7 linked regions of the Homo sapiens genome follow. The protein of the gene in region 6 purifies or fractionates together with the protein of the main gene of each other region. This does not show direct contact. Each region holds a gene or a part of one and is shown on either strand. Other genes may lie near its edges. The genes, in order: GLB1, INSR, MLF2, STIP1, SYNM, DNAJB4 and KLHL25.

Region 1 (4,302 bases), on a different chromosome or scaffold from region 6:
TGTTATCTCATTCCATCCTAAAAGGTATATACAATGACAGCTTTAGCAGGTTTTTATCAGCTTAAAATCTGCCGGTGCCTTGTTTTTGCAGTATTAGAGAACAGTAGCACTTTACTTTTGCGGTCAAGGGGGAAGACAGAGAAGTGGGAGGGCATTACGAGCAGCAGCCAAGGAATGGCACGCACCACACAGGCTTCATGCTATGGTCAGGACACAGGCCAAGCCAACTCTTGACCAAATCGCAGGTGAACAAAGTGGAGGTTTGGTCCTTTCTCAAACCTCAAGTTCCATTTCATAAGCATCCAAGAGATGGGCCCTCACATGCCGGGTGGACTGTGCACCTGGTAGGTAAGCTGGGAATTGTTTTCCCTGGATCCCCTTCCCTGGATGGTTCTGGGTTAGCGTTGGTCAGAAGAGGCCCTTGCTTGAGATTGGGAGGGTGGAGAGAAGCAGCAGCCATTGCTCTGGGGAGGTTATCGTGCAGTGGTGCAATCCTGGCTCGCTGCAGCCTCCGCCTCCACCTCCCAAGTTCAAGAGCTTCTTGTTCCTCCGCCTTCTGAGTAGCTGGGAATACAGGCGTGCACCACCATGCCCAGCTCATTTTTGTATTTTTGGTAGAGATGGGGTTTTGCCATGTTGCCCAGGCTGGTCTCCAACTCCTGGCCTCAAGAGATCCGCCCACCTCGGCCTCCCAAAGTGTTGGGATTACAGGCGTGAGCCACCATGCCTGGCCTTTTTCTTTTTCTTTTTTCCTTTTTGAGGCAAGATCTCACTCCAGACACCCAGGCTAGAATGCAGTGGCACCATCACGACTCACTGTAGTGTCAACCTCCCACCTTAGCCTCCCACATAGCTGGGACTACGGGCATGCCCCACCATGCCTGGCTAATTTTTGTACTTTTTTAGAGATGAGGTTTCGCCATGTTGCCCAGGCTGGTCTCAAACTCCTGGTCTCAAGTGATCCTCCCCCATCAGCCTCCCAAAAAGTGCTGGGATTACAGGCATGAGCCACCTCGCCTGGCCATGCACATGTTTCTTACAGGAGGGGAATGCTAGGAATGGAATTGCTGGGTCATGGGATATGCATGTGTCCAACTTTAGTGATACTATAAAGAGTAGCTATTTTTTAAAAAAGTGTGAAGGAGGAATTGAATTTTCACATTTAATTAATTTAAACTTAACCATATGTGGTTAAAAATGAACGTTCTTGTAAAGAATATTATACAAGGCCAGGTGTGGTGGCTCATGCCTGCAATCCCAGTACTTTGGGAAGCCAAGGCGGGCAAATCACTTGGGGTCAGGAGTTCGAGACCAGCCTGGTCAATATGGTGAAACCCTGTCTCTACTAAAAATACAAAAATTAGCCAGGCATGGTGGTGGGTGCCTGTAATCCCAGCTACTCAGGAGGCTGAGGCAGGGGAATCGCTTGAACCTGGAAGGTGGAGGTTGCAGTGAGCTGAGATTGCACCACTGCACTCCAGCCTGGGTGATAGAGCAAGACTCAGTTAAAAAAAACAACAACAAAACAAACAGAAAAAACCCAACAATATTATACAAGAAGCTACTGCACTGGACTACAGAGCTAAGGTATGGTGAGATCCTAGTGACTTCATTATTAGACCATCAGTCTTCCATTTCTCTCTATCCTCACAGCCTGACTTCCAGAGCAAGTCATAAATCAATGTTGTCTTAGACTGCTGCAGCCTCCTCACAGTCTCTTGACTTTATTAACTCTAGAATCTAGGCTCTGCATAGCTGCCAAAGTGAAAATAGGATTCTTTTCACACATTCCTGTTTCAAACCTCCTTCCTGTGGTCCACAGCCCATACCTTCCTCCTTTCCTCCTTGTGTCTGCCGCACTCCCCCTTGCTCACTCCACTCTCCACTACTTCTTGTTCTTTCCTTCTCTTTCTTCTCCTTCTTGTTCTTCCTTTCTCTCTTCTCTTCTCCTCTCCTCTTCTCCTTCTCCTTCTTCTCTTCTCCTCCTTCCTGTCTTCTCTCTTCTCTCTCTCTCTCTCACTCTTACATCTTGCTACATTGCCAAGGTTGGACTCCAGTTGCTATTCACAGGCACAATACAGCCTCAAACTCCTGCCCTCAAGCGATCCTCCTGCCTCAGCTTCCCGAGAAGCTGGATCTTCAGATGTGCATCACCACACACAGCTCCCCAATTACTTTCAGTTAGTTTTGCTTGGGCATCAGCTCGTCCCCATGTGCAAACACTACTCACCTCAGCCTGAAGCCTTCTCATCACTCAGGCAGGGCCACGACCCTCCTCCTTAATGCTGGGCTTTCCATTCCAAGTCACTCACTATCCTTTCATTTTTTCTTTTTCTTCTAGTTATTATCATGATTTGAAATTCATATCTTTTGTTTGATGACTAGTTTATGAGCTATTTCCAGCTATAACACAGGCTCTAGGAAGGGAAAGTCTTTGTCCATTTTGTTTGAGGCGAGATTCTCCGCACGCAGGAGAGTGATATTCAATATACACTTAGTAGCACTCATGGCTGCTGCTACTTGTTGATAATTCTGCCAAGAAAAGATTCGTTGAAGAGGTGACATGAAGCCCTTCTGAAAGAATTCTTCACGTTCCTCTGCTCCCAGTTTAAGAGTTTTAAAGAATATTGTTCACTAAAAGAAAAACATTTGCCTTCCCTCCTTGATTAGAACCAATGAAAAACACTTTAATATAATTTACCTTTAAAAATTCTATTTAAAAAATATATACATTGATTTTTATTTCTCTTAAAAAGTTATGCTTTTGCAATTATTTTTGGTGGGGAGGTATGCACGTGTTGCTGAATATGATCTAAAAGTAGATACACTCTTAATGAAGTCAGCCCCATGGGGACCAAGCAGTGGTTTCTGGGGCTTCCTAAGGCAGTCTCAGTTAAAATAGTTCCATGACAAAGTGACTTTCTCTGACCACGGCTTGACCCTGGCAGACTCTCCACCCTTTGCTGTAATCACTAAGGCAATAATAATAGTTTCATAAATGTGAGGTTCCTGGAAATGCCTGACCTACTTTTTTGTTGATCAGACAGATACATGTGTTTGTCTGTCTGTTTTAAACTATCTGGATAAATGGAATTTAAAACAAAAGTCTCCCTCCCTCCCTCCCTCCCTCCCTTCCTTCCTTCCTTCCATCCTTCCTTCCTTCCTTATGAGGCAGGGTCTCACGCTGTCATTCAGACTAGACTGCAGCTGCACTATCATAGTCCATTGCAGCCTCGAATTCTTGGGCTTAAGCGATCCTCCTGTGTCAGCCTCTTGAGGAGCTGGGACTATAGGTGTGAAACTATCGGGGGGAGGTATGCACGTGTTGTTGTTAGCCATCATGGCCAGCTAACTTAAAAACTATTTTTAAAAATAGACATAGAATCTCACTATGTTGCCTAGGCTTGTCTCAAACTCCTGGCCTCAAGTGATCCTCCTGCTTTCACCTCCCAAAATGTTGGGATTACAGGTGTGAGCCTCTGTGCCTGGTCTCACTACTGTTTTAAGTTGTAGTTTAAAATTTTCCAAAATTTTTTGGGAGCTCCTTTAAAAGCAACAATAAGCTCAGGGTGAATGCTGCCTTTGTCACACTCTGAAAGAAAACATTTAGACACTTGCAGGACTTAAAATGGGAAAGACAAAGGTCCAGTTCCCAAGGTTAAAGGCTCTCACACACCGAACTCATGAATCACTGTGATGCTTACCTGGGAGAAAGAGAAGAAAAAGAGGAGAATTGAAAAGAAAAAAAGGTAAAAGCCTCTTACAAGGCTTGCTTAGAAATAAGAGGTTAAATAGATCTCAATGAAATACACAGAAGATTAATTCTCCCCTTCCTTCAGAACCCCAAAAGGCTCTGCAGCTGACGCAAATCACACTTTTTTGCTTCCTCCTCAGTCTTAAAGTAATAAAATTAAATAACTTTATGGTTTCTCTATATTTTGGGACAGGTCCAAATAGAACTGAAGCCATCAAATGCATAAAATAACAGCATAAAAGATAAATCACTTCTCATCAAATCCCAAATAAAAATTCTTTTTCCTTCTCAACTTCCAACAGTTCCACCATAGCTAGACCTTTTTAATACAATAGCTTACCTAACAACAGTCGTCAAACCACCTCACGTATCTGGAACCAAGCTAGGAACTGATAAGCAAAAACTACTGCCTCATGTCATATTTGTTATAAAGTTCACAACCTAAAAATTGAAGAAGACCTTCTTTCACTTCTAGCCTATTTACCCATTTACAAAAGTTCTAACAAGTTTTGTTGCTAAATTAACATAATATTTGTTGAGAGTAGTCT
Region 2 (4,302 bases), on a different chromosome or scaffold from region 6:
AAGGCAAAAATGAGCTATTTCAGTGTAGTTTCAGACCAAAGCCTGGGACCCCCACACTTCCTGGAGGGACCGTGAGAAGGCAGAGGTGACGCTGCTATTCCCTTAAGGGTCTCCTCCCCATGTGCCTGGCTGAGTATGAATGGGGGAAGATTCAAAGGTAAGAGCCAGTTTTGCAACTTGGCCACTCACACTCACGTAAGCCAATGACTTGACTCAGCCAGACAGTCAACTGAATAAGCGCAGTCTGTACCCGCGCAAGAAGGACAACCGGCCAATAGTTATTGGAGGAAGGGATTTCCAAGGGTGATGTTTGTCCTGACACAACGTTGTCTCGCATATGGACTTGTAAGACTGACCTGGAAGGAGGTGCAACTCCAGTGCAAATAAACCTATGCCAAGTGAGTTTAGAGACCCTGCAGATCATTAGACATCGGAGAGACGCATCTAAGTAATTCTCTCTGCCTAGAAGACAAACCCTCTCCTAAACCTCACCCCAACCTCGCTCTCTCTCCTTGCACTACATTTTTTTTGAGACAGTCTTGCTCTGTCACCAAGGCTGGAGTGCAGTCCACCTACCGGGTTTAAGCAATTCTCATGCCTCAGCCTCTCAAGTAGCTGGGATTACAGGCACCCACCACCACGTCCAGCTAGTTTTTGTATTTTTTTTTTTTAGTAGAGATGGAGTTTCACCACATTGGCCAGGCTGGTCTCGAACTCCTGACCTCAAGTGATCTGCCTGCCTCGGCCTCCCAGAGTGCTGGGATTCCAGGCGTGAGCCACCATGCCCAGCCCTTGCACTACATTTTGACATAAGTAACTAACTCCCCATGAAGGTATCCCAGAAGCCCTTGGCAGCTCACTGTTTAGAATCTGTCAGGGAAGTGCAGTCAGCAGGCAGCCTGCAGCTGCAGAAACTGCAGGACCTGCTGTAGCATTCCAGCCAAAACCTGACTCTCCCTGGACAGCCCCCACCTATGACTGAGCTTGGTAGATGCCTGGCCGTCCCTTTGCAATGCAGAACTTCCCTGCAGACAACCGTGGCCTTGATCTCTTTCTGGGTTTGGCCAAGACTCAGGGATGCATCACCATCTGAGACTCTCCCAGCCCTATCCTCCCTCCTTCCCGCTCTCTGTTCACAGAGGTCAGACACACGCTATTGTCAAAAGGCTCTTCATGGCTGAGCGTGGTGACTCACACCTGTAATCTCAGCACTTTGGGAGGCCGAGGCGGGAGGATCACCTGAGGTCAGGAGTTCAAGACCACCCTGGCCAACATGGCAAAACCCTGTCTCTACTAAAAATACAAAAAAAAAAATTAGCCGGGCTTGGTGGCATGTGCCTGTAATCCCAGCTATTCTGGAGGCTGAGGCGAGATAATTACCTGAACCCAGGGGAAGGAGGTTGCAGTGAGGCAAGATCACGCCACTGCACTCCAGCCCTGGGTGACAGAGCAAGACTCTGTCCCAAAAAAAAAAAAAAAAAAAAAAGAAGCTCTTCCTCTGTTTCATATTTTATGAATATTACCCTCAATACATTTTCTGCACTCCTAACTTCAACTTGGCAGTCACTTCCCAGGAGATGCAGACTGACATAGGTATTTTACTCAACTTTGAAGTCTTCAGCATCAGCCTGATACACATATAAGAAGGTGTCATCCATTCATCCATCATTCATTCATCCATTCATTCAGTGCTTGTATGACTTCATCCCGTATCCGGTACTATATGGCACAGTAAGCATAGTGATAATATTAATAAATGTGCAGAATCTGCCCTCAGTAAGAAAGCCTATCACACAGTGAGTTGTTAGAGGGAAGTAATACCCCCTGGGGGTGACTGTGATGGATGAGAGAGGACAGCCACATTATCTGGTTTGTGGACCACTTACAGCAGGGGTCCCCAGCCCCTGGGCCACAGACCAGTACTTATCCATGGCCTGTTACGAACAGGGCTGTACAGCAGGAGGTGAGTGATAGGTGAGCAAGTGAAGCTTCATCTGTATTTACAGTCACTCCCCATCGCTTGCATGACCACCTGAGTTCTGCCTCCTGTCAGATTAGCGGCGGCATTAGATTCTCACAGGGGTGTGAACCCTATTGTGAACTGTGTACATGAGGTACCTAGACTGCACACTCCTTATGAAAATCTAATGCCTGATGATCTGTCACTGTCTCCCATCACCCCCAGCTGGGACCATCTAGTTGCAGGAACACAAGCTCAGGGTTCCCATTGATTCTACATGATGGTGAGTTGTACAATTCTTTCATTATATATTACAATGTAATCATAATAGGAATAAAGTGCATAGTAAATGTAATGCACTTGAATCATGCTGAAACCATCCCCACCCACCACCAGTCCATGGAAAAACCATCTTCCACTACACCGGTCCCTCATGCCAAAAAGGTTGGGGACCAGTGACTTACAGGATGCCTGGTCCCCATTGGTCTTCAGGGCAATGTCGTTTCTCTCCTGGCGCCCCTTGGTTCCTGAAACTTCTTCCATCTTGTGGATTTCTGACAAGCAGAGTTTGGGGTTATAGTGGAAGAAGAGTTTCCCCTGAGTGATGGTGAGGTTGTGTTTGCTCCAGTCCCAGAGCTGCCTTAGGTTCTGGTTGTCCAAGGCATAGAAGGAGTAGTTCCTATGGAAAAAACACACACATCTAGTCATTCAACGGCTGGTCTTCTACAACTCCAAGATGGTGTGGCCATGCTCGGAGTTGATCTTGTTCAGTGCTACGTGCCTAATCCTCTCCACTTGCTTGGCACATACTCAACACATATTTGTTGAATGTGGATAACAGAGGAAGTTGAGGAAGTTTTCATGGCCAGGAAGGAGGCTCAGCTCAGTCTTGAAGAGGGGTGGTGAGTCTGTGATGGACTGAGGAATAGGTTTTGCAGAAACCAATTTCTGCAAATAGGGGAAATACTGATAACACAGAGGCACCTAAGCTGAGTTCAGGGAAGAGCAAAGTAGCCTGTTTTGGCCAATAGGTGACAGGAAATAGCTGTAGTTGCAATGGACCAGACCCTCTAGTATATTGCATGCCAGACCAAGACCAAGAACATGTGGCCATCCTTAATAAGGAGAAAGGAGCCATTGAAGGTTTTTGTTTGTTTGTTTGTTTGTTTTATTGAGATGGATTCTCACTCTGGTGCCTAGGCTGGAGTACAGATAATATAGTCTAAACTATATTGTTTAGACCACCTTCTCAAGTCACTTACCAGCTCATGTTGATTAACATGTCCTTTTGTCCCTTTCCCCATTTGCTGTCTGTTCTACAGATGTGAGGCTGGGGCTGAGGCAGCCATCTTGTGACCATGAGGAGCACAAAGATGGAAAGAATCTGGGTCTTCCACAGACCTCCTGCCTATGAGTCAATCTTGATCTAGCTAGTTTGAGTTTCTGCTGTTTTGCTAATAGAGTTTCTAGGACCTCAAGGAGAAGGTTGGAATATACTGGAATATACTGAGATGGAGTCCATCCCAGAAATTAGGATGGACAACCGGGACTAAGAGGGAATGTTCATTTTATGCATGCCAAACTCTACTCACAATGCAGCCCAAACAGCAAATTTAGCAAAAATTCCAGCCTGTACCCTTGGAGGATGGGCACCAAGGTTGGGCTGCTCCCACTTTTGTTTCTCAAGAATGACTATAAAAAAGCTTTTACAATTTTTGGCTGGATGGACCTTTAGGCACATTCCAAGTTCTTTTTTCCCGAGGTTTTGCCAGATATACTTTTATTTGTTTTTTATTTGTTTTTATTTGATTTTTAAAAAATCCTTAAGTTTTTCCTTTTCTTTTCTTTTTTTTTTTTTGGACAGAGTCTCACTCTGTCACCCAGGCTGGAGTGCAGTAGTGTGATCTTGGCTCACTGCAACCTCTGCCTCCCAGGTTCAAGCTATTCTCCTGCCTCAGCCTCCCAAGTAGCTGGGATTACAGGCATGCACTATCACACTTGGCTAATTTTTGTACTTTTAGTAGAGACAGGGTTTCACCATGTTGGCCAGGCTGGTCTTGAACTCCCCGCCTCAAGTGATTCACCCACGTTGGCCTCCTAAAATGCTGGGATTACAGGCATCAGCCACCACACCTGGCCAAAAAAATCCTTAAGTTGTTCTAATACACGAACTTCCTAGTTAGCACTCAGGCCATACACACAATCAGGCCCACGTACCCAATTTCCAAGGTCTCTCCTCGAATCAGACGTAACTTCCGGAAGAAGGAAAGTGACACCAGAGCGTAGGATCGGCGGATTTTTAGATACCCTGAAATTTCTTCAATGAGGCCGAGGTTGGCTTC
Region 3 (4,967 bases), on a different chromosome or scaffold from region 6:
AGGCATCACCCCTGGTGAAGGGATTTCACCCTTCAGCTGCCTGTTCTAGCCTGTATCTTTCTCACAAAATGCAAGAACTGAAAAAACATCAGGCCTCATCATTACCCTCCCAAATTCCTCTGAGTCCAACCACGAGCAAGAAGGACCTGAAGAGACAGGGCCTTAATTGTATGCTACGTAAGAGAGCTGCTGCCGGCTGCTTCAGGCAGGCATGACAGCAGGTACAGGGTCCCAAGGCTCTCTGGTTCAATTACTTTATCCAGTACTTTACCCTTCACTAGCATACTGTTTCCCTCTTGCCTTAGAGGATGCAAGGTGTTGTCAGCCATCACTGAGAGCAAGGCCGGGGAAGGGTATGGGGCAAGTCTCACCATGTTTCCAATCATGTCATTCATCATCCCAAACATGTCCATGAAACCACCCGACTGGAGGAAAGAGATGGAAAACAGAGTCAGGAAAGCAAAGTCAGTGTTCAGAGTTGATCCTGTTTAGGAACCCACAACCCACATGGCTGCACATTTCCTTTCTCTTCTTCCTTCACATCTAGCAAGTTCTCTTTCTCATTCTGTTAAAATAACCAGAATACTCATATTTCTCCTCCTGTGAACTGCTGACCCCTTCCTCAGTCTCTGTGACTGCTGTGATCCAATTTTCCTTCTCCTGCTTGCTATATTCCCCCCATCTTTAGGAAGCAAGCCAAAGTAATGGATTCTAAACTCTAAAGAGGTAAGGCATGAAATTGTTAAAACCTACCAAAAAATCATCTCTAGTTGGCCCTTTAACTGCACTTCCCTCCTCAAAAGAACAAATTTTGCTAGACAATTACATCTTCCTAATGCGTATGAACTTCTAGGAGTACAACAGTTAATAACATCTTTTCTTTTTTTTTTTTTTGAGATGGAGTCTGGCTCTGTTGCCCAGGCTGGAGGGCAGTGGCGCAGTCTCGGCTCACTGCAATCTCCACCTCCCGGATTCAAGAGTAGCTGGGACTACAGGTGTGTGCCACCATGCCTGGCTTTTTTGGTATTTTTAGTAGAGACGGGGTTTCACCATGTTGGCCAGTCTGGTCTCGAACTTCTGACTGCAAGTGATCACCCATCTCGGCCTCCCAACAAGAGTTTAACACCTTTAACCCACAGGGCTCCTAGTACCCAACAGGCTCAGAGCTTTGTGAATGCCATAAAAAGAGAAGATTCTGGGGTTACTCATGAAACTATTCCTAAGAGGCACATTTGGGAATAATATCTAAGGGTAGAGAGTGTGTCTGAGATGGAAGGACACAGGGAGATAAAGACTCACCATTCCCAGCATCCCAAAGGGGGAGACAGCTCCAGCCTACAGGAACACATGAGGAACAGAAATTAGAGACCACATCCTATCTCTTTACAATCCCAAACCAGGCCCATGGCCTCAATTTTTTTCCATCCTCTCAAAAGGGAGTCACAAAGCCCTTTTTCCTGACCCTTTCCCCAACTCCTAGAGCATTTCACTTGCTCAGTTGGCTGTAGTGCAAGAAAATTAAGTGCTTTCCTAACTAACCTCCAACCTTTCTTTGGGTCTCAGGTGTGTCTCAGCATCATTACCTGCTGCATCCGGCGGCTGGCAGGCCTGGTCCCTGGCATGTTGCCATCTGTGATGCTGAGGAAGGGGCTATATCCAAAGCCACCTGACAACATACGGCTCATATGCTGACGGTGAATAGCAAAGGGATCCCTGTGGAGTGAGCACATAGTATGGATGGCAGAAGCGCCAAACTGTCAATCCCTCCACCACCCTGCAAAAAAATACGCACAGAGCAACAGTGGCACCGATGCCTACTTCCTGCTAGGTAGGAGCTAGGTATCCAGCCAGTTCCAACCATTCCTAGCAATGGGAACCCCGATGTCTGCCTGAACTGCTCAGAGACCTGGAGTGGGAGAGCTTGAGGGGGAGGGAATACTCACATCAGGAACATGGGATCCTCAGGCTCCACGTCCCTCATGAAGCGGAACATCCTGATCTCAGCTCCAGGGGGCTCCACACTGGAAAGATATGGAAGCTCAGATACTTGGAGGTGGCCAGGGTTTTGCACACCCACTCAGTGTGGGGACTCTCAGAGCACTGTCCTTTCCAAATCCTGTAACTGACCCCCTAAACTCCAGGGAGACCCTACTCCAGGTGTTCCACACAACCCTCTAGGGAGGGAAGGGCTCTTCAAACCTCTTTCTCAATTAGGGCCATGGAAAATTTTTCCAACCCTCTCGGTTTTTCCCTCCCCCACTCAGAGCCATCCTCTTCCCAAAGCTCTGGCCGGTAGCATACTCTCCCCTCCTCCCGCCGACGACACCGTTCTAGATGAGAATGCCAAGTGCAGGTCCTCCGCCCCATTAATGACCCCAGTCACCCCGCCCCCTCCTTACACTCAGGCCTCCCCCAGGCGGGCCTCACTAAGCCCCCCGCGCCTGTCTGCGACTCCTCTAGCTCCCGCCTCCCCGCCAGGCGAGCAGGAGAGGTAGGCCTGAGCCTCTCCTCTCCCCACCCCGCATCCCGGGCTCCCAGACCCTGCAGCCCCGTGGGCCCGCTCCCGTCCGGGGCTGCCAGCTCTGCCCGAGCCTCACCAGTGCCCGATTCGGGCTCAGCGGCCCATCCGGCCGGTTTCGCTTCCCGGTACGCTGCAGGGTCAGGGTCGCGGCCCGGAACGTGGGGATTGGTCCGGGCTTGAGCTCCTCGGCCTTCCACGCCGCCTCCTCCCACAGCTGCCACCTCCGTACGGCCCCCTCGGCCAACGGAGCCCGAACCTCGGCCAGGCCCGGGCGGAAGTGACGTCACGATAGACCCGCCCACCCGGGGCCGGGCCGTGGGAGCCCCGCCCCCTGGCGCGGGTGGTGAGATGGCTGGGGCCGAGTCCCAGGGGCGCCGGGGCCATGGGCCAAGCTCAGGGGAGCAGAGCCTGAGGCCGAGAGGGGTCCCCTGGGCACGAAGAAGGGGAGCTCATTAGTAACCTCGATTTGGGTTCTGTGGACTGGAAGAGGCTCCCATAAGGCAGGGGAGGAGAAGGAGAAGAGGAATCCATTCTTCGGGAGGGACCGGGTTGGAGGTTGAACCTGGGGGCGCAGTGCAGCACGTTCTCTCTCCCTCCTCAAGGGGAAACTGGAGGACGAGGGGCAGATGCCCCTTGGGGAGAGGCGGGCGCTCTGTGGGCGACGAGGCGGGGCGGATCCCTGGGGGGAGCTTTAAGCCGACTCTACTGGAGAAGCAGTCTACCCTAGAGGGAGGATGGGCAGTTTTCCTGCGGGGGAGGCGCTTGGGCCTGTCCCCGCTTGAGGAGGAGCGTTCCTGGCAGGGCGGAGTCCCCGGAGTGACGCAGAGGAGGTGAAACTCTCCAGCCCAGATCTAGTTCGGGCTTCAGAAAGTCGGATGGGGCAGAGGATCCAGGTTGGGGGGTTGGCCGCCAGATGGCGCTCCTCGGCCAGGCTGGAACCGGAGGCCCTTGAGAACTCGCGTTGGAGAGGGACCTGGACCCTCCCCCGTTACCCATCTGTGAAGGGTTGGACTGGGGAAAGGCTACAGTTCTGAATCTATTAGTTTAATGCCACTCTCCCCTTCCTTTTACTCTAATTCTTGTGTCCTCAAGAGCTCCCAGTCCTGCACTGACCTTTCTTGGTTGCTTTCTTAGGTCAAAGGTCTAAAGTTTGGGGGAACAAAGGAGTGGAGAGCTCAGTTAACCTGGATCACCCAGGGGAGGAGCTAAAACGGGGCCCAGAAGACCTGCCTCCAAGGCCAGAGACTGATACTTTGACATACTAAATGTCTTGCATAAAATCTGGCTCTGCTGGAGAGAAGGGCCTTCCCCTTTGGGGTCAGGGCATTTGGACTGTCTAGGATGGACTTTAACCAGACTCATCCAAACTCCAGCTTTCCCTGGTTCTTTACTCTGGCTTTTAGCCATATTAGTGCTGTGTGGAGTCTGACCCAATGAGAAAGACTTGTTCCCAGTAATTCCCTGGGGGAGAAAGAGGGGGTCCCTGGTGACTCAGGAAAAGGTGCTAGGAACAGGGCTTCTCACGTTTCTTTGGACTTGATCATTATTAAAGAGGAAAAAACAATAATAGAGACAGGGAGCAGAGATAGATAATTAAGATATAAGCTGACAGACTGGCAAGTCAAAGGAAAACAGACAGAATACAAGTAAATTTGTTTTTCATTGCTATTTCTGGGGGAAGAGACTTAGTAAAATCTTCTGTCTTCCAGATCTCTGCACTTCCCACCATGCAACTTCCCCTTATCCTCTTGCCCCAAATGAAAGCAGTTTGACATGTGATCAAGAGTTGTCCCAGTAAAGGTTCTGTGGCTGAAACTTAACTAAAGAGATCCTATCCATTTTTTTTCTTTTGTCCTCTCCTCCTTCTAAAGCAAGTTCTTTATTGTCCAGCCAATCAACAAATGTTTAAGGCCTGGCGCAGTGGCTCACGCCTGTAATCCCAACACTTTGGGAGGCTGAGGCGGGCACATCACAAGATCAGGAGTTCGAGACCAGCCTGACCAACAAAGTGAAATCCAGTCTCTACTAAAAATACAAAAATTAGCTGGGCGTGGTGGCACATGTCTGTAATCCCAGCTACTCAGGAAGCTGAGGCAGGAGAATCGCTTGAACCCAGGAGATGGAGATTGCAGTGAGCCAAGATTGTGCCACTGCACTCCAGCCTGGGCGACAGTGAGACTCCGTCTCAAAACAACAACTACAACAAAAACGAAAATTAGCCGGGCATGGTAGCAAGCACCTGTAATCCCACAAGTAGGCTGAGGCAGGAGAATCACTTGAGCCTGGGAAGTGGAGGTTGCAGTGAGCCGAGATCACGCCATTGCACTCCAGCCTGGGGGATGGAGCGAGACTCTGTTCCAAAAAAAATAAAAATAAAAATAAAAAGCAAATGTTTAATGAGGCCTGGAACTGTCCTAGGTACATTGTATTAAGCATACATACAAAA
Region 4 (4,302 bases), on a different chromosome or scaffold from region 6:
GGAGATCGAGACCATCCTGGCTAACATGGTGAAACCCTGTCTCTACTAAAAATATAAAAAATTAGCCTGGTGTGGTGGCGGGAGCCTGTAGTCCCAGCTACTCGGGAGACTGAGGCAGGAGAATGGCGTGAACCCGGGAGGCGGAAGCTTGCAGTGAGCCGAGATCGCGCCACTGCACTCCAGCCTGGGTGACAGAGCGAGACTCCATCTCAAAAAAAAAAAAAATCAGATTAGGATTTTAATTTTCAGAGTATTGCTGGCAAGATTTTTTTCTTTTTTTTTTTTGAGATAGAGTCTCGCTCTGTCGCCCAGGCTGGAGTGCAGTGGCGCGATCTCGGCTCACTGCAAGCTCTGCCTCCCGGGTTCAACGCCATTCTCCTGCCTCAGCCTCCCGAGTAGCTGGGACTGCAGGCGCCCACCACCATACCAGGCTAATTTTTTTTATTTATTTAGTAGAGACAGAGTTTCACCGTGTTAGCCAGGATGGTCTCGATCTCCTGACCTCTTGATCCGCCCACCTCGGCCTCCCAAAGTGCTGGGATCGCAGGCGTGAGCCACTGCGACTGGCTATTGCTGGCAAGATTTTTTTTTTTGAGATGGAGTCTCACTCTCACCCAGGCTGGAGTGCAGTGGCATGATCTCGGCTCACTGCAACCTCCGCCCCACTGAGTTCAAGCGATTCTCCTGCCTCATCCTCCTGAGTAATTGGGATTACAGGCGCCTGCCACTGCGCCCAGCTAATTTTTTCGTATTTTTAGTAGAGACGGGGTTTCACCATCCTGGCCAGGCTGGTCTTGAACTCCTGACCTTGTGATCCACCCACCTCAGCCTCCCAAAGTGCTGGGATTACAGGCGTGAGCCACTGCACCCGGCTATTGCTGGCAAGATTTTAAAAGAAATTTACAGTCTTTATAAAATAGTCAAAATGTTATGTTACAAGAACTATTAACATTCTCAATGCACAGGCCCTCAATATTAACACATTTAGGGTTGAAATCTTGGCCAATACCAAAAACTGCAAAAAAAAAAAAAAAAAAACCACAAAAAAAAACACCAGATCACTTCCTACATGTTGTCACTGTTAAATGACAGAGAAAGAATCATGTAAGATGACCAAAGCCACTACCTAAAAAAAGATCAGGTTCAGCCAGGCATAGTGGCTTACGCCTATAATTCCAGCACTTTGGGAGGCTGAGGAGGGCGGATCACTTGAGTTCAGGAGTTCAAGACCAACCTGGGCAACACAGTGAGACCCCTTCTCTACAAATAAAAAAATTAGCTGGACGTGGCCAGGCGCAGTGGCCTGTAATCCCAGGACTTTGGGAGGTTGAGGTGGGTGGATCATGAGGTCAGGAGTTTGAGACCAGCCTGGTCCATATAATGAAACCCCATCTCTACTAAAAATACAAAAATTAGCCGGGCATAGTGGCGTGCACCTGTAGTCTTAGCAATTCGGGAGGCTGAGGCAGGAGAATTGCTTGAACCTGGGAGGCGGAGGTTGCAGTGAGCAGACACCATGCCACTGCACTCCAGCCTGGGTGACAAACAGACTCCATCTCAAAAAAAAAATTAGCTGGACGTGGTGGCACGTGCCTGTAATCCTAGCTACTCAGGCTGAGGTGGGAAGATCACTGAAGCCCAGGAGGTTGAGGCTGCAGTGAGCCACGATTGTGCCACTGTCTTTCAGCCTGGGTGAAAGAGTGAGACCCTATCTCAAAAAAAAAAAAAAGTCAAGTTCATTATTAAATAAAACAGTAAGAAACAATGGCTCAATTATTAGGAAAACAAGAAAATACCCCTATTCTTTTCCTACGCACCTGCTGGCATTTCTTGAGCACATCTGGGGTTCGGTGCTCTGCCAGAGACTTGTTATAGAAATGGATGGCATCCTTGTACTTTTCTTCTTTGAAGTAGGAGTTGCCAATTCGAGCATATGCTCTGATAAAGAAAGAGGGACAAGGACTGCTTAGGACAGAGAGATAAAGTCAGCTCCTGCAGAAAAACACACCTGCAGCTAGAAAGGCCCGCATCACTGCCTTCAACACCTTTTGTCTTGTCTCTGGTGACCTTCTTGCCAGCCCTTTCTTAACACAGCAGATTCTATGGCCAGCAGCCCTCCTCCCCATGCAGAGAAACTTAAGTCTTGGACAGCAAACCCTCCGCGCTACTCAAGGTATTCTGGAAGGTTGAGCCTACTTGGCAATCTGTCGATAGTCTTCTCGGTTTTCTCTCCCCACTTCAATGGCCTTCTCACAAAGCTCCCGGCACTTATTGTAGTCGCCCTTTTCAAAGTATACCGCTGCCAGGCAGGATGGTTAAGAAGGAACAGTCAGTCTTTGCTTCCTCCCTCAGAGACACCCAACAATTCCCTTGCCCCTTGTTTCTGGGCCTCACCTGCTTGATTGGTAATGTAAGTCATGTTAGTGGGGTCCAGCTCCTTGGCTTTGTCGTAATGCTTCAAGGCTGTGTCAAAGTCTTTCTTCTTGTAGGCATCGTTCCCCAGCTCTTTTTCTTTCAGTGCCTAGATGAGGTTTAGAAGTGAGTGCTGAGCAAATCTAACTCAGGTGACAAAGCAAGAATCTATGATCTGTCACAAGTTCTGAAATGCAACTAACATGAATAGAATTCTATCAAGTTCTCCTGAAGGCCTCTTCATCAGTCAGCTATAGACAATAAAGTATCAGCCGTTAGAATGAAAACTAACTTCATCTTTGCTTGCTCTGAAACTCCCCCTTTTCCACCTACTCTCCTAGATCTTTGTCAGGAAGCAGAGCGCTTCTTTAGGGGAGAGGAAATCCCTTCGACTTGAAGCAACCGGTGAGGACAGCAGAGTTTTGGACCAGGCTTTATTCTGAGGCTGCAGCAGATCTGGTGTCAGTCTTGTGGTTGCCTCAGGGTCTTAGTTGTCAGGGAACCATAGCAGAGGGGGTGGTGAGAGGATGAGAAGCGGCTGAGTGGCACGAGTCTTCAGCAAAGCTCACTACCGCCCACACTGGAGGGCCTTTTTCCAGCTGAGACACCCTAAACAACCAACGCTTACCCATTTCAAGGTGCTAAATTTGGCAACAATCTGCTGTTCCAGTTTACAAGGAGGGAAATGAAATCGTTGAGGCACATGCCTTCTGCTCTAAAAGAGTGCTGCTTAGCGGACACTCCCAACCACACACCATGTCCAGCCAGGAAGCAAAGGCCTAGGGATTGATGTGGACAACATTCTTCGGATCACGACAAGGACGTGAATTACTCTCAACTTTCCAGTCTTGCTAGGACCAACATTCACACTGGCAGCAATGAAGCCGCTGTGGTGACCACGGGAAGGGCAACTCCCGCAGCTCACTCTTTGCTACACATTACTCCTAGGAATGCTCTTGTGAAGCTTTTTTTTTTTTTTTTTTTGAGATGGAGTCTCGCTCTGTCACCCAGCCTGGAGTGTAGTGATGAGCTCTCAGCTTATTGCAACCTCTGCCTCCCGAGTTCAAGCGATTCTTCTGCCTCAGCCTCCCGAGTAGCTGGGACTACAGGCGCCCACCATGACACCTGGCTAATTTTTGTGTTTTTAGTGAAGATGAGGTTTCACCATGTTGGCCAGACTGGTCTTGAACTCCTGACCTCAGGTGATCTGCCCACCTTGGCCTCCAAAAGTGCTGGGATTATAGGCATGAGCCACCGTGCCTGGCCTGAAGCTGATTTTTTAACATGCTGGCCATTCTAATGAATAATAGCCATAAGCTTAGCGCATACTAAAGCACTCAAAATAGTTTTAGGTGGGCACAGTGGCTCGTGACTGTAATCCTAGCTGAAGCAGGAGCATCGCTTGAGGCCAGAAGTTCAAGACCAACCTGGGAAACACAGCAAGACTCCGTCTCTAAAAAAACCATAATAATCATGGTCAATCAAGGTCAACAGATGTCCCCATTCAACATAAAGATTTCTAGTTGTTTATAGATAGGTGACAGTGAGGAGAGAAAAAAACAAGACCTGCTTCTTATTCTCTGGAAGATCTTCTTCCATTGGCTCTGGCTTGGTCTCCTTTTTGGGAGGGGGTGGTGGTGGAGGTGTTGCAATCTCTTCCTCCTCATCCATACTGCCCAGATCGACCCCAAGGAGGACGCTGAGAGTGGTCATGATCCGGGGATCTTGTAGTTTCCTAGTATTGATTTAAAAAAATAAAGAAAAATTGTAATTACTCCTCCCCACAATTAGTCTTTTAACTCCCACTTACTACTAAAGTCAGATTCTTGTGTTTAGAAGCTCCTCACCCATCAAAAGATGGCTAGATTTTGCACCACTCATGAGTTACAA
Region 5 (4,302 bases), on a different chromosome or scaffold from region 6:
ATGAAACCTTCAGTGGAACTCGTAATGTGAGCCATATGAAAGCAGAGTTCCCCTGACTGGAGGAGACATGGGGACTTGAAGTGCAGTTAGAATCCTGTGCAGCCCTCCTTTGACACAGGGACTCCAGGGCCCACCGGGGAAGTGCTTTTCCTGAGGTCATACCTGCCCTCAGAGTGAGGCTGGGACCCCACTCTCCGTTTGCCATCCAGTGATACTTCTCTCTTGTTGGAATTTGCTGCTTTTTCCTAAAAGCAAAGAGCGAGGAAAATGTCAATAAGGACCTGGTTTTTTTTTTTGTTTTTTGTTTTGTTTTTTTTTTGGTTTTGGTTTTGGTTTTGGTTTTGGTTTTTTGAGACGGAGTCTTGCTCTGTCGCCCAGGCTGGAGTGCAGTGGCTGATCTCGGCACACCGCAACATCCGCTTCCTGGGCTCAAGTGATTCTCGTGCCTCAGCCTCCCGAGTAGCTGGGAGTACAGGATCCCACCACCCCGCCTGGCTAATTTTTGTATTTTTAGTAGATACAGGGTTTCACCATGTTGGCCAGCCTGGTCTCAAACTCCTGACCTCAAGTGATCCACCGGCCGTGGCCTCCCACAGTGCTGAAATTACAGGTGTGAGCCATGTGCCCGGCCATTTTTTTTTTCCAGTTCCAATTTGCAGAGGTTTTACTGCACTAAGTGTTACCAGTCACTACCTTGTCCATATACTGAATCTTCCCTCAGTTAACTTAAGTCAACTCCATTTCAAATTGCATTCCAGAAGATTCAGCACCAATCACAGAGATGCTAGGAAGTATGTGAAAGAGGGAGTATGGATGATTTAACCCCAAGCCTGTAATTTTTTTCGGGTTCTGTAGAAGCTTACTATGGGGAGAGTGAAAAAATCCTAAAAATGGGTTGAATTAGTATATGGTAATAAATATCTTATTACTAAGAGCCTTTAGCAAGTGCTTCGTGTGTGCCAGGTACCACAGATGCCCTTCACAAATATTCACTCTCAGTGCCCACACCAGTGTTACGAAGTGGGTACTAATATAAGCTCCATTTTACAGAGGAGGAAGCTGAGGCACATAAGTCACCTGATTAGTAAGTAGTTAAGCCAGGATTCAACTCAGGCTCTAGTGCCTGAGCAACTGACCGCTGGGCGTCCGTTTCTCTCTTCTGTCTGTTTGATCAGAGAGAAACCTTTAACCAGTATTCTTGCATTCATAGCATAATGATAATTGCTCTTCCTAAGGGCTAGCCCGAGGTACTCTGCTGATTTCAAGTCCTAAAATGCTTTTAGACCCCTCCAGCTGGCTGAATAGTTTTGGCATTAAAACTATTTTCTTTCATTTCTTTTTTTCTGTGTTCCATGTGCTTTAATGCCCCCCTCCCCTGGAGGCAGGAGCTGGAGGCAGCAGAGGGTGCTGCCACATTGTGCCCAGCTCTCCCTGCCTCTGGCTATAGCTTCTGTGGCTCAAGGGGGAAGATGCTTGCTAGGATTCTACTTGAGGGGAAACTGGTCCTTCCCAGATGGCCCATGCGCCTTCACTGTATGAGGCGGTAGTCATTGGCCTGCCCCAGGCCTGGCCTCAGATTTGCCCGAGAAGAGTTTGCTGAACTGACATCCAAGTTCCCAAATGTGATCTAGATCACTTGAAGCCTGAGTGACACACCCAGGCTGCAGGAGGGGGCTTCAGAAAACACTTGAAGACATTTGCGATAAAGTGGAGACCAGCTTCACCCTGCAAACACGGAGATTTTTGCTTATGAAAGTGAGCCCTTAGCTGCTGAGGCTGACTGGAAAAGGCTTCCAAGCCCCCAAAACATGATTGAATGAAAGCTTTTTGTAGATGGGAAGGTGGGGTGGGATTAGGATGGGATTAGCTAAGGGTCAGTGCTCTGCAGCTGTCCTACCTGGCCCTGAATTCTGACTCTGCCGCTCTTTGGGCAGGTTACGTTCCTTAACCTGTCTGCAATTCAGTTTCCCCATTTGTGAAACGAGGTACTGGAAGTAGCTCCCAGGGTGTGTACAACTGGTTCATTCGTTCAGCTAACAGCCGTTGAGCATTTAGTGTGCCAAGCTCAGTTCTTCATGGTTGCAGATTCAGCAGTGAAAAATGCCACGTAAAACAAAGAAAGTCCCTTGACCTGAGAGGCCTTCAGGTGGAAACAGCGTGTGGTTTTTCGGGGATGCCTCAGCCAGGCTGCCGGTGTGGCTAGGGCACAGTGAACAGGGGGTAGAGTGGCCACTGCAGGACTTGGGCATTTACTTTGAGTGCCATGGGAAGCCACTGGAGGTTCTGAGCCGAGGAGAGTTGGGGCCTGGCTGTGGCTTAGTGGAATCACTGTTGCTGCTGTTTTAAAAATAGACTGAGTGGACTCAGGGATGCCTTCAGAGATTGTTGCAGTAACCCAGGCAGGAAGTGCTCGAGGCTTGGACCAGGGGTCTCAGAGGGGCCCCTGCGTTCAAGTTGAAGCCAACGGCATTTGCTGCCAGATTGAATGTGATGGGAGAGGGAGAAATCACAGTGGACTTCAGGCGTTGTGGCCTGAGCAACTGGAAGAAGGGACTTTCCTTGTTTTACGTGGCATTTTTCACTGCTGAATCCGCAGCCATGAAGAACTGCGCTTGGCACACTAAATGCTCAACGGCTGGTAGTTGAACGAATGAACCAATTGTATACACCCTGGGAGCTACTTCCGGTACCTCTTATACGCTTTACTGCGGGGCATTGGTTAGGAGGACGGGCCTGGGTGGGAGATTCAAGTTCCATGTACGTGTGTTCAGTTTGAGATGCTTCTTACACACCCACCTGGAATTGTAAAATATAACTTGAGTTCAGGGTGCTGTCTGGGCTAAGCTATAAATACTTCGTCGGCATCCAGTTCGTGCTTATTGTTATGAATACATTTAATTTTTGTGTGTAGCTGAAGTTATCACAGTATTTAAATCCCCTGGAGCTCTACCTTTCAAGGTTGCAAATGACAGTGATATTTGTGAACTGTCCCACAGGCTTGCTCAGTGAGCGGTAGCTCAAGTTTGGCTAAGAGAAAATTAATTCTTTTGATACTGACAGCAGCATGCCTTTCCTGGTGTGGAGCAAGATTTCATCATCGGTTGTGATGCTGCCCAAAAGTTCTCTAAATAGCAAAAAGGTGACCTCTCTCCCAAGCTTTTGCAGCATTAGGTGAAACTGCCTCTGCTCGGGTGAGATGTAGCGTCCCGTGTCTGGGGCTCCAGTGCCTCTGTCCTGACCCACAGCTTGCTGACTGGCCAAGCAGAGCCCAAGTCTGAAGTTTTATTCCACAGCAGGATTTGTTGTGATTTCTGCAGAGACCACTGGGAGCCAGTTAAGTCTTATATTCCTGCTTCCAAACGTCAACTAATTTTCCTTTGACAATTTAGGAGGAGCTGACTCACATGGAAATGTGACTGAAACTGTACTTATTCCAACTTCAACACAGTTTGATTTTCCTCTTTGTATTTTGTGGGTGCAGAACTATTCTGTGTGCTCTGGGAGGAGTATCTTCCTGCACACCCCTTCCACGTGACTAGGCTTTCTTGACCTGCTCAGGAGGTTTGTGGTTGGAGAGCTTTCATCGTATTTTTTTTCTAAGCAGTTTAACAACATTTGAACTTCTTTGTAAGGAATAAATTACTATAAATTTTTAATTTGTAATAGTTATGTCAAATTTCCTGTAGTAGGAAGGACACACATACATACATACATGCATACCTACAGCCCATCTTGTATGAGAACCTTGTACCTGAATTGTATTCCCTCTAAAACAGGGGAATGTAGGATTTTGACATTGAGATTTAACTCTAGAATGTGTGAATATTGTGGCTAAATTGTGGCAGTGCTGTCACTTACATCAAGACTGGCAGTTGCTCTTTGGTGAGCTTCTCTGTTTGTAATGCCAGCTGTGGGATCTGTTATCGTTTTTCCACCCTGGGACATAAGCCAGTGATTTTTAAGTTTACTTCTTTGCTTTAAAAGCTAAGGGGTTTTAAACTACTTCAGGACCCTTTATATTCAGGGAACCTAACAGCCATCATTGGCATAGAAATAGAACTGTTATGAGAAGTGGGAATATTTATTGGCTGATCATGCATTTTAAAAAATGATAAATTCTGGCTGGGTGCAGTGGCTTGTGCCTATAATCCCAGCACTTTGCAAGGCTGAGGCGGGAGGATCACCTGAGGTCAGGAGTTCAAGACCATCCTGGCCAACGTGGTGAAACCCCGTCTCTACTAACAATACAAAAATCAGTTGGGCGTGATGGCAGGCGCCTGTATACAGTCCCAGCTACTTGGG
Region 6 (4,029 bases):
ACAGTGTATCTAAATGGGATTTTTTAATAGAATAAATGAGATATTCTGAATAAACGGCAAACAAATATAATACTTTCCTGTGAAGGAAGAATAATTCTAAAAAATAATTCAAATAACTTTCATTCAATTGTATTTTCTTTTTTTCCTTTTCTTTTTTTGAGATGAGGTCTCGCTCTGTCGCCCAGGCTGAAGTGCAGTGGCTCGATCTCGGCTCACTGCAACCTCTGCCTCTTGGGTTCAAGTGATTCTCCTACCTCACCCTTCCAAGTAGCTGGGATTAGAGGTGTCTGCCACCACACCTAGCTAATTTTTGTATTTTTAGTAGAGACAGGGTTTCACCATGTTGGCCAGGCTGGTCTCGAACTCCTGACCTCAGGTGATCGCCTGTCTCGGCCTCCCAAAGTGTTGGAATTACAGGCATGAGCCACGGCGCCTGGCCCATTCAATTGTATTTTCAAGTAACCTATAACTAGAGAATGGTATTTCTGCATAATATATTTCTATGTTTTAAAAAAGGCATTCTCTCCTCACTCTTTCCTTCTATCACTTATATCAATTATGTAAGTTAAAAAAAAAAACCCAGGGTATACAGATTCAGGGTGATTTAGTTTTTAAAAAATTCACTCATTGTGTAATGACCAATAAAAATTAAATGAGAAAAATCACTCTAGAAAAGCACTATTAAGAGATAATGTTAAATCAAGAAAAATGTATCATTTGGTGACTTGAAAATTCTGAAGACAAATATCCTTACTAAACCCTGGATCCAATGGCTTAGCCACAAACTTGAGCTATCAGTGAATTGTTGCAAAATATTTTAAATACAAAGCAGTGGATATCTGCTTTTTCACAGGAATTCACAGTGTCATTCCATGTTTGTGAATTTCTTTACAAAATTACAAAATTACTCCTTTAGAAATAGTAGTACATTATTGGTAGTATCTCAGAATCCTGCTTAGCTTTTGAGATAAACCAAGTCATGATATTTTGGGTAATATGGCCATAGGTATCATGCAAGATTGAACTGCCCAGTATTTGCCTTTTTCAATATTTACTTTGTAAGAACCTGACACTGTAGGTCCTCACCACACCAAAACCTGCAACATAAACTTCAATTTTGGGCAACTCATAGACCAAAAAAGCTAAACAAAACAAAAAGGAAAAAACCCTCTATATACAATCACCCTGCTTGTCTACATTTAATTTGTTTCATTCAAAATAAGCAGTCACTGCTTGACTATATTTTAAGGATATATTTCTAATTAGGAAAATTTGATGTTAAATGTAATAAAGGAATCAAAGGGATAACAAGTTTTCATAGCTACAGTGATTTGAAAGCCAGTATTTTGGGAGAAAAACTAATAATAAAATAACTTAGTCCTGATGTTAAAAGTTGAAAATCCCCAAAACAGTACAAGTTAAAGTTTTTTGTGTTATCAATTAGCAATTTAAAATAGTCTTACTTCATAGCCCCGTTTATATGGAAGTGATGGACAAACCTGATTTAAAATGCAGAATGAGAAAAGGATAATCTGAAATTATCCTCCTTTACTGTGCTCACTAGTTTTTGATCTCACAATGCAAAAAACAAAAGTATGGCAGGGAGAGGAAAGGGAAGTTGTCATGTTTTTCTCTATACCTAGATAGTAAAATTTCTAAATAAATAATGTTATCTAAAAGTAAATCAGTAATTATTCTAACTAGGTGGCCATTTTAGGTCAAAAATTGTATTTCTGAGATTTCATTTTCTTGGCACAAAATTATTGTTTACAATTAAGCTAAAAACTTGTTCTGGTATTTTATGACATCAGGAAAATTCTTTCCTCTCCAGGCAGAATGCCAAAAACAACTAGAAGCTAAATGCCTGCGCCTTCTGCTTCTGAGAGTCACAACTCTGTCTTGTTCAGTCTAAACTAGCCTTGCTATAAGAAAGGCAAAAAACTACTTTTTGTTTTTGTGAATAAGCTATAAACTACTCAGAATCTGAAATGCCAATCTTAAGGTTTTAAATGACTAAAGACTCTTTATTGGTTCTGGCAGAAAATTCATTAGAAAACGAAACAGGTTTCATAAGACTTTTGACACAATTTACTAATAGGTATGGGAATTCAAGGTTTATTTTAAAATATACATTGTTAACATTGTAAGTCTAATGATAAAATATGTATAATACAAAATGCTAAAATAAAAAAGGCAAACAAGGACATTTCATTCATGGCTCTGCAATACTCATTCATATGATCAGAGATGAAACCTTGTTATTATACATTTGTCCTTCTACTTTTGATATGACTGAGAATCCAATTTAAGGATAACCTTAACAAGCTGAGAGAGAGGGGAAAAAGGCTGGCAGAGAGAGAGAAAAAAAAAAAAGAGACAGAGCTGAAGAGACAGAAAGATATACAGAGAATACTTACCTTCCTCCCCAAACTGATCATATATTTCTCTCTTTTTAGGATCACTCAATACTTCATAAGCTTCTGCGACCTCTTTAAATTTTTCCTCTGCCTGAGGAGATTTGTTCTTGTCCGGATGAAATTTGAGGGCTTGTTTTCGGTAAGCCTTTTTAATATCTTCATCTGAAGCTCCTTTCTCAATTCCCAAAATGCAATAATAGTCTTTCCCCATTTCGAATGCCTTGAAATTAACTTAGATTTCCCTTTGTAAAAGAAAACAGCGTCCCCAGTCTTAGCAACAGATTCTAAGAAAAATAAACCAAGCTGGGTATTTTAAAAGTTAATCAGCAATTCAGCTAGCTGTCTTAAGGCAGCAAGCAGACAGCGTCTCTGTATTCAATCCTTCCCCAACGGCTCACTTACAGATAAATATACACTACACAGGAGACAGCCTCCTTCTAGATCCTCCCATTTTCACTACGTGTCTCTGTACTTTCTAGAACAGCAAATGCTACAGGACGTCACTTTCCCAGCTGCCTCTAGTCAAAGTACTGAGCTATGTTTTCTCCTCCTCCACGATTAACTATTCATTTTCCGACTAGCTCTACCGTCTTTATTTCCTAATTAAACAGGACAAATGGGTTAACATGCCAATATTTCAACACAGAATGTCACAACTATATATTTATGTACTCCATACTAGGTGAAAATCATCACAGTCATTAAACACCCTATGTTAAAAGAAGTTAAAGTTAATATACAGATAAAAGGAACGACAATTCTACTTTAGGGATTTTTTAATTTTAAGCTATTTGTCTGTTAAGTATATAATACCAAAACGCAGGTTGTTTAAATTAGGATTTCCAAGTAATTTATGTCGTCTTCAAAATTCCTGGGGTCTATCAATCAGAAACGCCAGAAAGTTTGTGTACTAGTTTCACATTGTTAAGGGAGTATCTATAATAAAATTCAAATGCGTTATTTTAAAATAAGTAAAGGACTTAAACATGATTTTAGCTAACTAGTTATTTCTAGTATACATGAGTTCATAGTTCTGGCAAACAAATACTTATTTTTGAAATTTTAGTATCTGAACTTAGTTACTTCAACTAAACTAAAACTGAATGAGGTCCCTGCCACCCCTCAACCCCCGTCCCCTGCAGCCGCCCCACAGGATCCCTATTTAAAGAACTGTGGTGCTGCAGGAAAGCTAGAACAAAGTATCAGGTTACAGACAGTACATACTCATGTTCCTTACAAGACTTAACTGCAACTGCATCAATGTAAAATTTGGATATGCCACTTAAGGGGCAGTAATATGAGAAATATTTTTTCTTTCAAAAACACATTTCCCTAATTATAAATATATATTCATTGTTGGAGATTTTGGAAAACGCAGAAAAAAGTTTTTAAAAATCTCCCTATAATATCATTTTAGGTAATCCCTGTTAAATATTACTGTATTTACTTCTAATTCTGTTTTCTATAAATCTTCATGGTTATTTGCTGTAGTTTTATAATTTTTTGTTAACAAAGTTAGATCATAGCATTTATATACCCTTTTGATGCCTGCTTTTGAAAGTATAACATATTTCAGGTATTTATGAGACATTTTCTATGTATATAACTCATC
Region 7 (3,352 bases), on a different chromosome or scaffold from region 6:
GGGAGGAGAGGAAGAGAAAATCAATCAGTGGCCACATTGTTCTGTTCTGACCTGATCTGGAACAAAATGACAATGACACAGCTGCCCATGAGGCTCGGGCGTGAGAACGCCAGATCCACCATTCACCGGCAGCGCAGTCTGGTGATTCAGGCACCCCAGGCCTGCTTTCCCCACTGAGTGGCAGGTGACTCAGGTGTCAACTTGATTGGATTCGGGGATACCCAGACGCCCGGGGACACATTACGTATTCTCAGTGCTGGAAGGGAAACCCAGGCGGCTTGGTACTTGATTCGAATGGCCAGGCCGCCCCAGTGAGTCTGTGCTTCCAGAGGTGACCGGCGTGAGAGCCGTGGTTGCAGGTGAGCACCATCAGATGGGCAGGGGCCCTGGTGGAATAAAAAGCTAAGGAAATGGGGACTCAGGTTTCTTTCTTCTGGAGCTAGGTTGCTCTTTTCCTGCCATCGGGCATCAGAGCTCCAGGTTCTCTGGCCTCTGGGACTTGCTGCCCACCACCCCACCCCCACCCCAGGCTCTTGGCTCTTTGTCCTTGGGCTGAGGTCTGTCCCCAGCTCTCCTGGTTCTGCAGCTTGCAGCCTATCATGGGACTTCTCAGCCTCTATCACCAAGTGAGCCAATTCCCCTAATAGAGTAAGTTCCCTCTCACATACCACTCCGAGGCCCTGAAAGGAAAAGGTGAGCCCTCTCGCACAGGCGGGCACAGGCAGGCGGAGCACTCTAGCAACCCTGAGTGTTCATGCACTCCATAAGGCAAGGAGCCTCAGCAAAGCAGTGATTAATGGTGACGCTGTCCGCGGTTTTTGGCTTTGGTTGTATTTAAGCTGTACGTGTTAGTTTTAGTTGTGTAAGAACAAGAACATAAGGGGCTTTCTAGTTGTATGCTTGTGTGTATTAAGTAACCTTAGTTACATTTCAATTAAACACTGAAGCCAGCACTGAGGCTCCACGGCTGTCCCCTTTAAGTGGGGTACACCTCTCCATCCCACACAGTGCTGGGCCGTCTGTTCTCTGAAGGCTGCTTTGCAGGAATTCTGCCCTCCCCACGTGCTCAAGTTGTTTCCAGATACAGAGGCTGGGTTCGGCGACTGAGAAGGCCCCCAAATCCCTTCAAGCTCCTCACAAGTGAGAAGCTGGGGTCACAGGGGCCCTAACCATCCTGAGATGCTCTAAGACTGCAAACCCGAACCTCTGGGGCCTGGCTGCCCGGTCTTGGCCCCATCCCAGCACGCCACATGCTGACATGTGGTCCCTTCAGGGCAAGGCCTCACTGCTACCTGGAACTAAACAGCCACGCTACCTACCTGGGGGTGTCCCCCAAGGCACCCTGAGTTGCTGAAAGGAATACAGATGACAGCTAGAGGCACAGGGGTTGGGGAGCCTCGGGGCCAGGCTCCTGTGTTCCCTCTCAGGCTGGGTCCCTTTGTTCCCTCTCAGGCTGGGTCCCTTTAATTTTTGGCAGGTGCTCCCTGGGGCCTGGCCTCAACTGTGAAATGGGCTAATCCTCCAGCTTGCAGAGTGGACAAGGGTCAGCGGCCGCCCTGCACTTCCTGTGTGCAGCAGGTCTTGGCCAACGTGCATCCTGTGGGTTGTTGGTGTAGGGCCTGCCCCACTAGGCTCAGCCTGCCCCATCAAGGGTGGGATGCTGCTCTATCCCCCAGCCTGGCACAGGAACGAATGACTGCTGATGCCTGGACGGACGGACTCCGTCCTGGGCACTTGCTTAGCCAGGCCCAACCCTCAAGGCTGGCAGAAATCCTCAGGCCTGTGCTCTGGGATTTCCCATCTGTAGCAACTTCTTTAAGACAGGAGAGAATGTACTGTACTGTCCCTCCTGCAGCAGTGACGGAGCCCACAGTGGATTAATGAGCTCGGCCTTTCCCAGAGCCAGGACTGGAACCCTGCCCTGCACCCCAGTGGCTAGGCCCCAGCAACACCCTGAAGAGAAGACAAGCTGTCGGCAGCCGGATGCCTGCCTTGCATTCGGCAGCCCCCCCATGCTGGAGGCGGGTGGGAAAGAAGGGTTGGGAGTCTGCGCCTTAAAGGGCCTGGAGTACGGGGTGCCCAGTGGGAGAGAAAGAGAGAGAAGGAGAGAATGTTCACAGCAAGATCACCCTTAGTGGGTAAGCGGGGGCCTCCTGCAGCCGCTGGCTGCTATCCCCTAGGCTGTGGATCCAACCGCAACACTGGAGCAAGGGGCTGCCCTGGAGGTCGCTCAGGTTCCAGCTCAGCAATTCCCCGCCGCTTCTGGACGGCTGCTGGCCAAGCCTGTGCTCTGTGCCAGGGGCGCAGACGTGAGGATGCCCGTGGCCAGCTCCCCAGAGGCGCCTGCAGGCAGGCGGCACACTCAGGGCTCAAGTCCTGCTCCAGCCCTGACTCACCATTCATGTGATGCCAACTGTCTCACCTCTCAGAGTCCTAGTGGGCGCCCTCCAACAGCAGGACCTACGACAAACAGCTCTGGAGAATGACAGGGAACTCGATGCAGACGCTCACACCTATGAAGAGCTCCAACAGGTGGCCAGAACAGGGGAAAAAAAATGCTTGTGGACAAACAGGGGCCATGATCTGGGGTGCAGAGGCCACAGTGTGCAGGGGACCTCCTGGTGGCTTCTGAAGCTAACGTCAGAGTCTTACAGGATGGATGGAAAGGGGCCTCCAGGGACAGGGGCAGTTGGGCCCAGCTGGAGGCAGGAGACTCAGCCATGCTCGTGGGGACTAGCGAGAGCTGGACTTCTCACCAGCATCCTTGGCCTGATCCCCACTGCTGCCTGGGAGAGTAGCGTCAGGGAGGGAAACGTAGGGAGCGGGGTGGTCACAGAAGCCATCTCGGGCCCAGGCACTGCCAGACGACATTCTAGGTGGCAGACGACGATGCGCTGGTTGGGGCTGCAGGCAGCCAAGCTCAGTGGGAAGTGCCATGGTCACCAGGGGCACCCACCGCGGGGGAGGTGGCAGGAGTGCTTTGTTTCCACCCTTCCTGGCCCCGGTCTGCGGCTGCCTGAGTTGGGGGCTCTCCTCTGGCTCAGCCCTGACAGCTCCGCAGTGGCCGCCTGAGCAGCGAGAGCTCTGCTTGCAGCCACTGTGGCTCCATTTCCTGGTGACCCAGGGAAGGCCAGGCATGCCCGGGCAGCGGCTTCTGGGCTGCAGGCCCTTCTATGGAGAGCCCAGCTCACTCCCTGCCTTTGAAGAGAACTCGGACACTGAGCTGTCCAGGCAGAAGCTGGACAGGAGGAGCTTTGCAGAGCATGGGAACAACCCAGGGTCATAGTGAGGGGACAGAAGCCACGGGATTGGGGTGGCCTCAGGCTGAGGAGGGGCTGCGCGGAGGGTCTCT

The links.
Region 1: the proteins of DNAJB4 (region 6) and GLB1 purify together in Homo sapiens (affinity purification with mass spectrometry; 3 studies listed by BioGRID and IntAct, with this or other methods). This does not show direct contact.
Region 2: the proteins of DNAJB4 (region 6) and INSR purify together in Homo sapiens (co-immunoprecipitation; one large-scale study listed by IntAct). This does not show direct contact.
Region 3: the proteins of DNAJB4 (region 6) and MLF2 purify together in Homo sapiens (affinity purification with mass spectrometry; 2 studies listed by BioGRID and IntAct, with this or other methods). This does not show direct contact.
Region 4: the proteins of DNAJB4 (region 6) and STIP1 purify together in Homo sapiens (affinity purification with mass spectrometry; 2 studies listed by BioGRID, with this or other methods). This does not show direct contact.
Region 5: the proteins of DNAJB4 (region 6) and SYNM purify together in Homo sapiens (affinity purification with mass spectrometry; 3 studies listed by BioGRID and IntAct, with this or other methods). This does not show direct contact.
Region 7: the proteins of DNAJB4 (region 6) and KLHL25 purify together in Homo sapiens (co-immunoprecipitation; one large-scale study listed by IntAct). This does not show direct contact.

Annotation. Positions count from the first base shown.
Region 1 is NC_000003.12:32,999,218-33,003,519, forward strand, and holds part of GLB1 (beta-galactosidase isoform a preproprotein), read right to left. Parts: intron 1-4,302.
Region 2 is NC_000019.10:7,168,113-7,172,414, forward strand, and holds part of INSR (insulin receptor isoform Long preproprotein), read right to left. Parts: coding exon 4,178-4,302; intron 2,640-4,177; coding exon 2,425-2,639; intron 1-2,424. UniProt on the Homo sapiens protein: Receptor tyrosine kinase which mediates the pleiotropic actions of insulin.
Region 3 is NC_000012.12:6,750,342-6,755,308, forward strand, and holds the start of MLF2 (myeloid leukemia factor 2), read right to left. Parts: upstream 2,801-4,967; 5' UTR 2,598-2,800; intron 2,576-2,597; exon of another isoform or gene 2,541-2,575; intron 2,022-2,540; 5' UTR 1,994-2,021; coding exon 1,944-1,993; intron 1,714-1,943; coding exon 1,584-1,713; intron 1,336-1,583; coding exon 1,300-1,335; intron 426-1,299; coding exon 372-425; intron 1-371.
Region 4 is NC_000011.10:64,195,490-64,199,791, reverse strand, and holds part of STIP1 (stress-induced-phosphoprotein 1), read right to left. Parts: intron 4,148-4,302; coding exon 3,979-4,147; intron 2,522-3,978; coding exon 2,395-2,521; intron 2,300-2,394; coding exon 2,197-2,299; intron 1,939-2,196; coding exon 1,818-1,938; intron 1-1,817. UniProt on the Homo sapiens protein: Acts as a co-chaperone for HSP90AA1. Mediates the association of the molecular chaperones HSPA8/HSC70 and HSP90.
Region 5 is NC_000015.10:99,107,643-99,111,944, forward strand, and holds part of SYNM (synemin), read left to right. Parts: intron 1-4,302. UniProt on the Homo sapiens protein: Type-VI intermediate filament (IF) which plays an important cytoskeletal role within the muscle cell cytoskeleton.
Region 6 is NC_000001.11:78,003,710-78,007,738, reverse strand, and holds the start of DNAJB4 (dnaJ homolog subfamily B member 4), read right to left. Parts: upstream 2,801-4,029; 5' UTR 2,629-2,800; coding exon 2,418-2,628; intron 1-2,417. UniProt on the Homo sapiens protein: Probable chaperone. Stimulates ATP hydrolysis and the folding of unfolded proteins mediated by HSPA1A/B (in vitro).
Region 7 is NC_000015.10:85,761,019-85,764,370, forward strand, and holds part of KLHL25 (kelch-like protein 25), read right to left. Parts: intron 1-3,352. UniProt on the Homo sapiens protein: Substrate-specific adapter of a BCR (BTB-CUL3-RBX1) E3 ubiquitin ligase complex involved in various processes, such as translation homeostasis and lipid synthesis.